3 linked regions of the Homo sapiens genome follow. The protein of the gene in region 1 interacts with the protein of each later gene in a biochemical or structural test. Each region holds a gene or a part of one and is shown in the gene's direction. Other genes may lie near its edges. The genes, in order: BAG3, LRRK1 and DYNLT1.

Region 1 (3,651 bases):
GAAACATCACAGAATTAATGGTCTGTTCTCTCAAAGTGCAGAGCAGCCCTCAGTATCTGTCCTTACTTTTGATTGATTCCGCAGCAGTAGAGATTGTCCCCTGCAAGCTCATAGATTGTTAGCCTTTGGCGTTTGTTCGCCGTGCAGACAGCTGCCTTCGTCAGGAAAGATCACTCCCCTTCTTAAGAGTTGCCTTACACAGATATATGCAAATGACACTTATCAGTAGCTCCCCTCCTGGGAAAGGACCCTCGGTGCTCGGGGACTGTTAGGACTTCTGTTGCGCAGCCCAGCTTGCTGAGAGATGGCATTGCCCAGTGAGTGACTGGCCAGCCTTGTTGTCTGAAATAAGATCTTTCCTGTGGTACATCTGGAACTTGGCCTTCTCAAGGGTCCCAAAATAGCCAGGCCACTGAAGGGAGAACTTCAAGAGAGGACATAAGAGAAGGACCCCAACTGCTCCTTGCCCAAGCAGGCTCTGTTGCGTTGAAGAAAAAGTTCTTCAGTGATACTTGTTAAAGCACAGTCAGGAAGATTTATTCGGGGCCATCAAGATAGGCACAGGGACCACGGCAGTGGGGTCGTGCAGTCATGGGTAGAGACTGGGCACAACTTCAAATACAACACGGGCGATTGGGAATTTATAGTCAAGGAGCAGTGTGGATGGAAAATTAGAAGAGGAAACATCAGGGCTAAGGGTGTTTCTGGCTATGCTGACCAAACAGGATTCTTGCCGAAGACAGGCCAGGGTGATTAGACAGCACCTGGAGGCTGTGGAAGCTGATCAGATAGTGAGGCTGGGGAGGGGGTTTCTGGCTAAACTGACTTAGCAGTGTCTTTTGCTAAAACTTGACTTTACAAGGAAGTGCACAGATGGGCCTAGGAGATGCTTCGGAAGCCTAAGATTTGGTCAAGCAGAGAATCTTTGTCAGTTGGCATCGTTAGGCGACACAGTTAACCCTGGGTGCCCCTCTCTCCCTATGCTGCCTCTGCATCCCTGTCCTTCCCCTTCCTGCAAATTGTTCTAACAATACTCCTGAGGAGGCAGCCCTCGCTCCCCAGCCCACTTCTCTGTAAAGATTCCCAAACTGTGTCCTGTGTTTGGGCCCAGTACAAGCTCTATATTGCTGGGAAATGTGAGGGCCTTTTTGGAAACAGAGACGCTTGCTGTAATGTAGAGGTTGGAGCTGACCCCTGCTCCTGGAGCTCATCTTCTGATCCGGGTCTCTGAAAATGCGGGCATGGGCAGCTCTCCTACACTCACCGCTTCCCTCAGTCACCCAGAAAAGAAACCTGTCTTACCAGTTTGGAGAATTGGGACCTTTCCTTTGCTTAACAGATACTTTTGGCTTTCTCCTGATGCCCCTAATTCCTAAACTGTTGGCCAAATAGCAACCTCTATGGGGTGGGGGGTTTGGAGGGTACAGGGGCTGGGAGCTGGCTGACGCTTTGAGGCCCAAGTCACTCGGGAAGATCACAATGCCAAGCGCCACAGTGTTTCCTCTGCCAGGAGGGTTCACTTCCCAGTTTCTAACCAGCCTGTGTTTCTCCACTTTTTATTTCAGGAGACTCCATCCTCTGCCAATGGCCCTTCCCGGGAGGGCTCTAGGCTGCCGCCTGCTAGGGAAGGCCACCCTGTGTACCCCCAGCTCCGACCAGGCTACATTCCCATTCCTGTGCTCCATGAAGGCGCTGAGAACCGGCAGGTGCACCCTTTCCATGTCTATCCCCAGCCTGGGATGCAGCGATTCCGAACTGAGGCGGCAGCAGCGGCTCCTCAGAGGTCCCAGTCACCTCTGCGGGGCATGCCAGAAACCACTCAGCCAGATAAACAGTGTGGACAGGTGGCAGCGGCGGCGGCAGCCCAGCCCCCAGCCTCCCACGGACCTGAGGTAAGGAGAGGCCAGGCTCACCAGCCTGCTGGGGAGCAAGCCGCTGTGCTTCCCAGGCCGGGCCCATCCCCTCAGGACAGTGCCCTGGGCCAGGCACCTGTTCACATGCAGGGCATCTGGGTCTAGCCTGCAGCATCAGAGGTCACCCAGCAAAGACAGGGTGATGGCCCCACATCATCCCCCAGCATCTCATAGGGCTGTTCTTCAGTGGGGCAGGGCAGGAATCATGTGGCTTCTTTTTGTAGCTAAGGAACGGCTCGGAAGGGCACACTGCAGCCTGCCTGCTCCAGATGCACACAGGTGGAGGGAGCAGAGCTGGGACCGGAAGCCTGGCCTGCCTTCTGGCGCCTAATTTCCATGCTCCTTATTCACACTGGGCTTTCTATTCAGAAGCACAGAGATAGCTGTGCATTATTTTGTTCAGTTCAATGCTTATGGATAAATCTTAACCGCTTGTGGAGCTATGTTGACAGGAAAATGAGACCCCATGCCTGCCCTCACCGTGCACCACAGTTTCAAAAGAAATAAGGAGTCAGGAAGGCAGCTGCTTTAAGACAGCATTTTAATCCTGAAGCCAAACATCTCAGGGATATGTCAATGGATTCTGTGCATTAATAGCTAAAAAATAGTTCTTAATCTGGTTCTTAGCTGAGATTTGAGGCATTCCTAGTAGGATTCCTAAGCAGTAAGTCCTCTCATTTTCCTGTCTGCACATCATCCTGTGGTGTGTGCCAGCGTTGTTCCTGGGCACAAACTCCCGTGTCCTATCTGCACCCTGAGTCATGCTTGCCTCTCAGCTCCGTCTGAATCTGTTCAGCTTCACACCTGCTTGAGAGTGAAAGTTACAGTTAATGTGGGATACCTTTTTTCTTTTCTTAGAGAGGTAGTACCTGGCTGAGGCAGGTGGATCACTTGAGGCCAGGAATTCAAGACCAGCCTGGCTAACACGGTGAAACCCCGTCTCTACAAAAAATACAAAAATTAGCCGGGCATGGTGGCACATTCCTGTAATCCCAGCTACTCAGGAGGCTGAGGCAGGAGAATTGCTTAAACCCAGGAGGCAGAGGTTGCAGTGAGCCGAGATCGCACCACTGCACTCCAGCCTAGGTGATAGAGCGAGACTGTCTCAAAAATAAAAAAATAAGTAATGCCTATATTTATAATGGTTTTGCTGCAAGAAATCAAAGTGACACATAAATGCGAGACATCTTCACAAATTTAGGCTAACAAAGCACTTAGAAGAGGAAATGCTCTCAATTTCGAGGTGAATAGAAGGTGGCCCAGCAGGGAAAGGTGCTTGACCTGCCTTGGGCCACACGGGATGCTGGCAGCTCCCAGTTGCTCAGCCGAGTTCTCTGTAGATTGGCAGAGAAAGGGTAGTGGGGACAACACATCCCTTGTATGAGCGCTTCCTGTGTGCTGGCCTGGGGCTGAGGCACATGCCCAGGTGACTGACCTCATCTTCAGAGCAGCCCAGTGAGGGAGGGGCACTCTTCCTATATTTCAAATGAAGCTTAGAAAATGATTGAATTACTAGGAATTTGAACATAGGCCCCTTGATTCCAAAGCCTTCAGTCTTTGTTGTGTGTGTGTGTGTTTTGTTTTGTTTTGTTTTGTTTTGCTTTGTTTGAGGTGGAGTCTCTCTCTGTTGCCCAGACTGGAGTGCAGTGGTGTGATCTCAAATCACTGCAACCTCTGCCTCCTAGGTTCAAGCAATTCCCCTGCCTCAGCCTCCTGAGTAGCTGGCACTACAGGCATG
Region 2 (3,651 bases), on another chromosome or scaffold:
ATATGAATTTTTGCTTGTAAAGTCAGAAAGGGAAAAAAATTTTAAAGGAAAGCCTATTTTTCAATTCTTTGGAAAAACTGTGTTTCCGGAATTCCCTGGAGACCCCGTCAGCTAATGTAACGTTCAATTTGGCAGCAGGGATGAGCAGCGTGGGAGGAGAGGGTGGGAAAGATGGGGGACATTTATCAAGATGGGGCCCAGCCCGGCCTCTGCAGAGCTCTGCCCAGGGCCAGCGAGGAGCCCAGAATACTTAAGCAGGGTCTTTTCTCTGTCTTTCAGCTTTTTGAAAACAAGAAGAATACTAAAAGCAGGAACAGGAAAGTCACCATTTACAGTTTTACAGGAAACCAGAGAAATCGCTGTAGCACATTCAGAGTGAAAAGAAATCAGACCATCTATTGGCAGGAAGGGCTCCTGGTCACTTTTGATGGGGGCTACCTCAGGTAGGAACACCTGGAAGCCCACCTGCCAGGTCAGCAGGTGCCACAGCAGCCACCGCGGGGCCACGTCAGCAGGATGCCTCATCCTCTTGGTGTCCAGAATTTTGCTCGTGAGAGCGGCTCGTCATGGCAGCTTGCTAGAAATGTGAGGCCCTCCCACGAGTGTCCCAGAGGCTCCGGTCTCCTCACCCCTGCTGAGCCCCCCTTGCAGGACGGGAAAGGCAAAGGCAGATGTGGCGGCCACAGCTGAGGACTTGAGGGACGTGGCGGCCATTGAGCTCAGGAGAGCCTCAGGCACTTCCCATGGTTATTCAGGTCACCATGGTGACCTTGCAGCCATCCTGCCCGTCCCCTTGTTCTGTGAGAAGCCAGGCTGGGGACAGGGGATGCTGAGACTCCTCAGCCCCCATCTCCACTGCCCATAACCAGACACGGAACTCAGCTCCCTGTGCCATTTATTCTTGGTTTTTTGAGAGCGGTAGACCTAAAGTCAGCCCAACAGGTTTAACGAATGATAAACACCCAAGATTATTTTAATGTTTACAATGAACTTTGCAAAATATTCTTCAGCTCTGTGAGAGGAGAAGAAGGGAAAAGGGGAGGTAACTTTACAGAGGGCTTGATTGGCACCTGCCTCTTCCGCATAGATGTTCTCACTTAAGGCCCAGGGTTGCTGCTGGACAGATGAGCATACTGAGGTTCAGGGAGGTCTGGGAACTTCCTTAGGGCCTCACCTGAGGGTCAGCTCCCAGGCTGAGCGTCCCTGACTGCAATCTTCCTCGTGCCTCCTTCACCAGGCCAGGTCCGGGGCAAGAACAAGGCAGGGCCACGCACACGTACATACAGGGAGGAGTCCCCCATCGGTCCTGCAGGGCACAGAGTCTCTCCAGGTCCCCGGGGGTTGGTTCCTGTCCCTGGGGGTAGGGATATCATCCCAGGGTCCCCCAGAGCCAGATCGCAATGGGCTCCTTTTGGTCTCTGGATTGCAGTGTGGAATCTTCCGACGTGAACTGGAAAAAGAAGAAAAGCGGAGGAATGAAAATTGTTTGCCAATCAGAAGTGAGGGACTTCTCAGCCATGGCTTTCATCACGGACCACGTCAATTCCTTGATTGATCAGTGGTTTCCCGGTAAGAGGAGATGCTAGAAGCAAGCCCTCATTCATGCTAATATTTCTTATGAATCAGGGTGGGGCTGCTGCTTTCGGGGTGGACAAAAATCCCACTGGGATTCAGCCCAAGAAAACTAGGGGGTCTTAACAGCACTTTGGTGGGAGTCCTGGCCCCCGAGAAGTCCAGCTCTGTCACTGGGGGGAGTCCCACGGGGAGGACTGGGCTCGGACACCACTGGGAATGTGCAGGGAAGCGGCCTGCCAGCTGCCCACAGGCGTGGCAAGAAAGATGACACTGGTACCACGAGTGGTCCACGGAGATGCTCAGTGTGAGCTCACACGTGTCTTGTTTTCATAGTGAGGACTGTGTGGCTGAAATTGCAGGGGAGCCGGCAGATGGAAATTTATCCCCTGCGCAGGGGCAGGGATGGAGGGGAGCCGTGGCAGCCAAGGGGCCTTGCTCTCCTCCCCTGCCACCCCACCCATCCCGGCGGTGATCAAACCACTAACACCGCCCTTCTCAGACCCTTTGGATCTGTTTCTTCATTGATAGTTCACCCAAAAAAAGTACTCTTTGAGTGAAGTTCCTGAGGCCTCCTGTTTGTTTTGCTCCTGGGGTGGAGACGACTCCCAGAGCAGCCTGCCAGGGGGAGGCCATCTGGGGTTTAATGGGGCAAGCAGCTGTGGGAGGGGCTGCCCTGAGAGCTTCAGCCCTGAACGCTGGAGGCCAAGCAGCTGTGGGACAGGCTGCCCGAGAGCCTCAGCCCCTGAACGCTGGAGGCCAAGCAGCTGTGGGAGAGCGGGTTTGGAATTCCAGTGCCACCCCTGCAAGCCTCGGCTGGTCCCCCGGCCTCCTGGGCCGGCCTCACCTGCATGCAATGCCTGCATCCCAGACAGCATCAGGGAAGGTGGCTAAGAGGCAGTGGCAGAATGCACTCAGGATACACATTCCAGATCCCAGGGTCTGGTCTCTGTCAGGGTTGGGGTCCTTCACACTGTTGGCAGGAAGGGTGACCTACAAGGAAAAAAGGCTTAGAAAGGAGCCCTCGGAGAAGTCAGCTGGGTGTGCGTGTCATGGTGATTTGGGAGGCACTTGGCTGTCTAAGGGGGCCCTTAGGCCCATGTGAACCCTTCTGGGCACTTTGCAGCTCCCCACCAGCCAGTGTTCCCCACACAGCAGGTGCTGGGCAGTTTGACAGGTGGGTCCCTTAGACAGTCACCTGAGATGGAAAGGGCTCTGGTGAGCACCTGAGACAGATCGCCTGGAGCCAGCATCCCCAGCCAGGGGCCCCTCCCAACGGGATGCCTTACACATGGACCTGCAGATATCAGATGTGCCTGGAAAGTTCTAGGCATCCACCTCCTACCTTGCATGAAGCAGGCAGTTGGCCGGCCCTGAGGGCACCTCCACAGGGCATCTTGGAGGGTGTTTCTCTGCACCTCCTCTCAGAGGCGTGGGGGAATCCCGTGTCCGGTGACTGAGTTTCGTCTATGATAATTTGCACTCATTTCTGCCCCTGCATTGCCCTTCATGGACATTGTAAACCTGATGTTTCTAATTGTAAGAAGGGTGCCTTCCCCACTGCCGTGATGGTTGGAGGATAGCTCACACCTAGTCTGCGATGACCTGTTAGGGCCCAGTCATGCAGGAGGGATCCCCCCACTCCTCTCAGGCCCCCCAGCCAGCCTGCTCAGTGTCCCGACCACTGGACAGTTCTCGGAAGCATCCTGAACCCTCCCTGGACACATCTTTCAGGACAAACAATTGCGCTCTCCAAAAAGGCACCCGAATGTGGCAGTGGGTTTCAGCCTGTCTCTTGGGTACAGGCCAGGACAGGCAGCTCCCCTGCTGCGAAGGCCTCAGGGCCTGGGGTGCAGAGTGCTGCTCGGGGGGCCCTCCTGCACCACCTTCTTGTGAAGCTGTCTCCTGCTCTGTCCTTATTTAGCCCTGACAGCCACAGAGAGCGACGGGACGCCACTCATGGAGCAGTACGTGCCCTGCCCGGTCTGCGAGACAGCCTGGGCCCAGCACACGGACCCCAGTGAGAAATCAGAGGATGTGCAGTACTTCGACATGGAAGACTGTGTCCTGACGGCCATC
Region 3 (3,036 bases), on another chromosome or scaffold:
TCACCTGAGGTCAGGAGTTCGAGACCAGCCTGGCCAACATGATGAAACCCCATCTCTACTAAAAATACGAAAATTAGCCGGGTGTGGTGGAGGGCACCTGTAATCCCAGCTACTTGGGAGGCTGAGGCAGGAGAATCACTTGAACCTGGGAGGCAGAGATTGCAGTGAGCTGAGATTGCGCCACTGCATTCCAGCCTGGGCTACAGAGCGACACTCCGTCTCAAAAATAAATAAATAAAAATAAAACAATACCTTTAAATTATGTGCATGTATTCTAGTCTTCTGGTTTCTGAAGACTGTAATGCCATCCTTGGTAAAGCTGAACAGTCTAGTTAGATTATTTCTAAGGTCTTCATTTCTACATTATGTTCATTACCTACATTTGCATTTATCAATGTAGTGGAAATATCTTTTAAATAAATCAAACTTAACTGAATGTTCTTCCTTACAGACTGCTTTTGTTGTTGATGAAGTGAGCAACATTGTAAAAGAGGTAAGAGGAGAAATGCTCACTTCTTAAATGTTTAATGGCTTATATTAGAGAAAATAATGTGTTTTAAATACTATCTTGGAATTGTTTCGACTGAGTCTGTGTGTTTTGGTGTTTCAAATAACAGTTTTTACTTCAGTAAATAGCTAGATAAGAGTTGCTTCTATATTATGTAAATTACATATTTTAAATCAGATAAGGAGTTTTATGTACATAGCATTATTACTGCATATCACCAAGATTTGATTCTATAATCTTTTAAGCATAAAAGAATCCTGGTATACAAATAAATGTCTCCAGGGTTGAATGAAGAAAGAGTGAGTATAAGAAAATTGAACAATCAATTTCCAGTTATTCTGGACCTAGTGATCCAGTTTGGGGCCTATTTGCTTACTTTTCTTACATTCCTAAATTTCACACTTTATTGTGTTGTTGATCATGAAGAGGAAGAGAGACAGAAGGGATGTTTGTTACTCATTCAGAAAGTACACACTGAGGGAGCGTGCAGGGCATAGACCCTTCTGGAGTTTACAGCTGAGGGGCAGGCAGGGCAGACACATCAAACAGTCCTGCTGGAAGGTGTCAGCCTGCATTTGCTGTGTGGTAAGTGCCACTAGTGGTGGTGCTGTGAGAGCACTGAACTGGGAATGTGACCCACCCAGGGAGTTCAGGGACCATTTCGAGCTGAAATCTGCAGAATGAGAAGTAGGGGTAATGCAGTAAAAAGAGGGGACAAGGCCCCCTGAGACTGGGAAGTGGGGGCAGTGCATGGTGTGTGAGGGAGTGAAAGGAGGTGGGTGTGGCTGGAGCGGTGCTGAGAGCTAGGGGCTCATTCCTACCTAGGGTAGGAATGAAGCCAGAAAGAGTTTTCCTCATCAGCTTCCCTGCCTTCCCTGGGTAAAATGGGGCACAGATACTAAAGCCATTGGCTAAAAGAAAACTATTAGATGATCTGAATTTAATGATACTGTTTGGGGTTTCAGATGTAATTTAGAATTTAATGTAAATTATTGACTAGTGTTTGATAAAAAACCGCAACCTATGTTTGTGATCAGTATCCAAAGGCAAAATGATTTTGTTTGACCATTTACATTGTTCAGCATCAGGAGTGACTTTCTGGTTGCTTTGCAGGATCTGTACGTTTGGTTTTCATGGTTTTTCTAAATACACAGTTTCACGTGGAACACAGCAGGGGGCAGGAAGGTGGGTGGATTACACCAGAACTGGGAACAGTGGAGGGGGCTTGTTGGGAAGTCTAGTTCTGCCGCAGTTGTTTTCTGCCTTATCTTTGACTTGGTTACCAGCTTTCAATTAGCAAGTGCAATTGAAAGTACACATTTCCATGCTGGGCGCGATGGCTCACACCTGTCATCCCAGCACATTGGGAGGCCGAGGTGGGCGGATCATGAGGTCAAGAGATCGAGACCATCCTGTCCAACATGGTGAAACCCCGTCTCTACTAAAAATACAAAAATAAGCCAGGCTTGGTGGCGCATGCCTGTAGTCCCAGCTCCTTGGGAGGCTGAGGCAGGAGAATCGCTTGAACCCGGGAGATGGAGGGTGCAGTAAGCCAAGATCACGCCACTGCAATCCAGTCTGGGCGACAGAGCAAGACTCTGTCTTAAAAAAACAAAACAAAACAAACACATTTCCAATCCACATGGAAACATGAGGTGACATTGCAGTGTTACTTGAACTTGTGTCACTGGCCTCAACAGCTTTTTTGCCGCCGCAATAGGTAATTCTGTACTCAAGTGACCCTAAATATTGGGTAGTAGTCAATTTGCGCAGGTCCAAAATTGGTGGAGGGTTCCCTCCTCCTTGAAAAACTGAATTTCAAAGTATGTGCGGAGGGAGAGCTGGCGGAGGGAGAGGTTTACCTTCAACAAAGCCTCCCCCACCCTTTGACGGGAGAGGTTTAGCTTGAACAAAGCCCCCCCTACCCTTTGACAATGCCCAGGTCTAGTAATACTGCTGTTCTCTTAAACCGGGACTTCTGGCCCCCCAGCCCTCTTGTAGCCTCTGAGCTGGGAGGGAGCACAGTGGCCGAGGACAAGAAGTAAGCCAGCCCTATGTGTAACGTGACTACTCAAGAGTCTCAGGGAGATGATCAGCAGGTCAGTGGGTAGAAATCAGAGTGACCTAGGGAGGTTTTAGGTCCTCAAAAGCAAGGTCGCCAGATCTAAGCCCCAGGCATCAGATCCCAGTCCATCACCACCATGCACAGCTCAGATCCCTGGACTGCTGGTTTGCTCTGCCTGTCTGAGGACAGACCTTGGCCCTCACTGAATGTTGTTATTTTCACTTTAGGTCATAACTGTCATAGAAACTCAGGTTCCTGGTTTCCAGCACAGCAAGTTAGGGGTAGAGAATAAAGTTGCTGAGATGCAAGCACACTGGCATCCATGTGAAAGGGGAGCTGACAATGAAAAACTCAGAAAATCATACAATGGCAATATCATAATGATAAGCTTAGCAAGAGCAGCGACAATGAGCTTGCATTGTCAGATAACCCCCAAAGAATACAGCATAGATAAAGAAGTAAA

What was found.
Region 2: the proteins of BAG3 (region 1) and LRRK1 form a complex in vitro, tested with the Homo sapiens proteins (2 studies listed by BioGRID and IntAct, with this or other methods).
Region 3: the proteins of BAG3 (region 1) and DYNLT1 form a complex in vitro, tested with the Homo sapiens proteins (one study listed by BioGRID).

The regions. Positions count from the first base shown.
Region 1 is NC_000010.11:119,668,286-119,671,936, forward strand, and holds part of BAG3 (BAG family molecular chaperone regulator 3), read left to right. Parts: intron 1-1,565; coding exon 1,566-1,892; intron 1,893-3,651. UniProt on the Homo sapiens protein: Co-chaperone and adapter protein that connects different classes of molecular chaperones including heat shock proteins 70 (HSP70s), e.g. HSPA1A/HSP70 or HSPA8/HSC70, and small heat shock proteins (sHSPs), e.g. HSPB8.
Region 2 is NC_000015.10:101,048,215-101,051,865, forward strand, and holds part of LRRK1 (leucine-rich repeat serine/threonine-protein kinase 1), read left to right. Parts: intron 1-279; coding exon 280-443; intron 444-878; exon of another isoform or gene 879-1,429; coding exon 1,430-1,569; intron 1,570-2,419; exon of another isoform or gene 2,420-3,496; coding exon 3,497-3,651.
Region 3 is NC_000006.12:158,638,776-158,641,811, reverse strand, and holds part of DYNLT1 (dynein light chain Tctex-type 1), read left to right. Parts: intron 1-451; coding exon 452-493; intron 494-3,036. UniProt on the Homo sapiens protein: Acts as one of several non-catalytic accessory components of the cytoplasmic dynein 1 complex that are thought to be involved in linking dynein to cargos and to adapter proteins that regulate dynein function.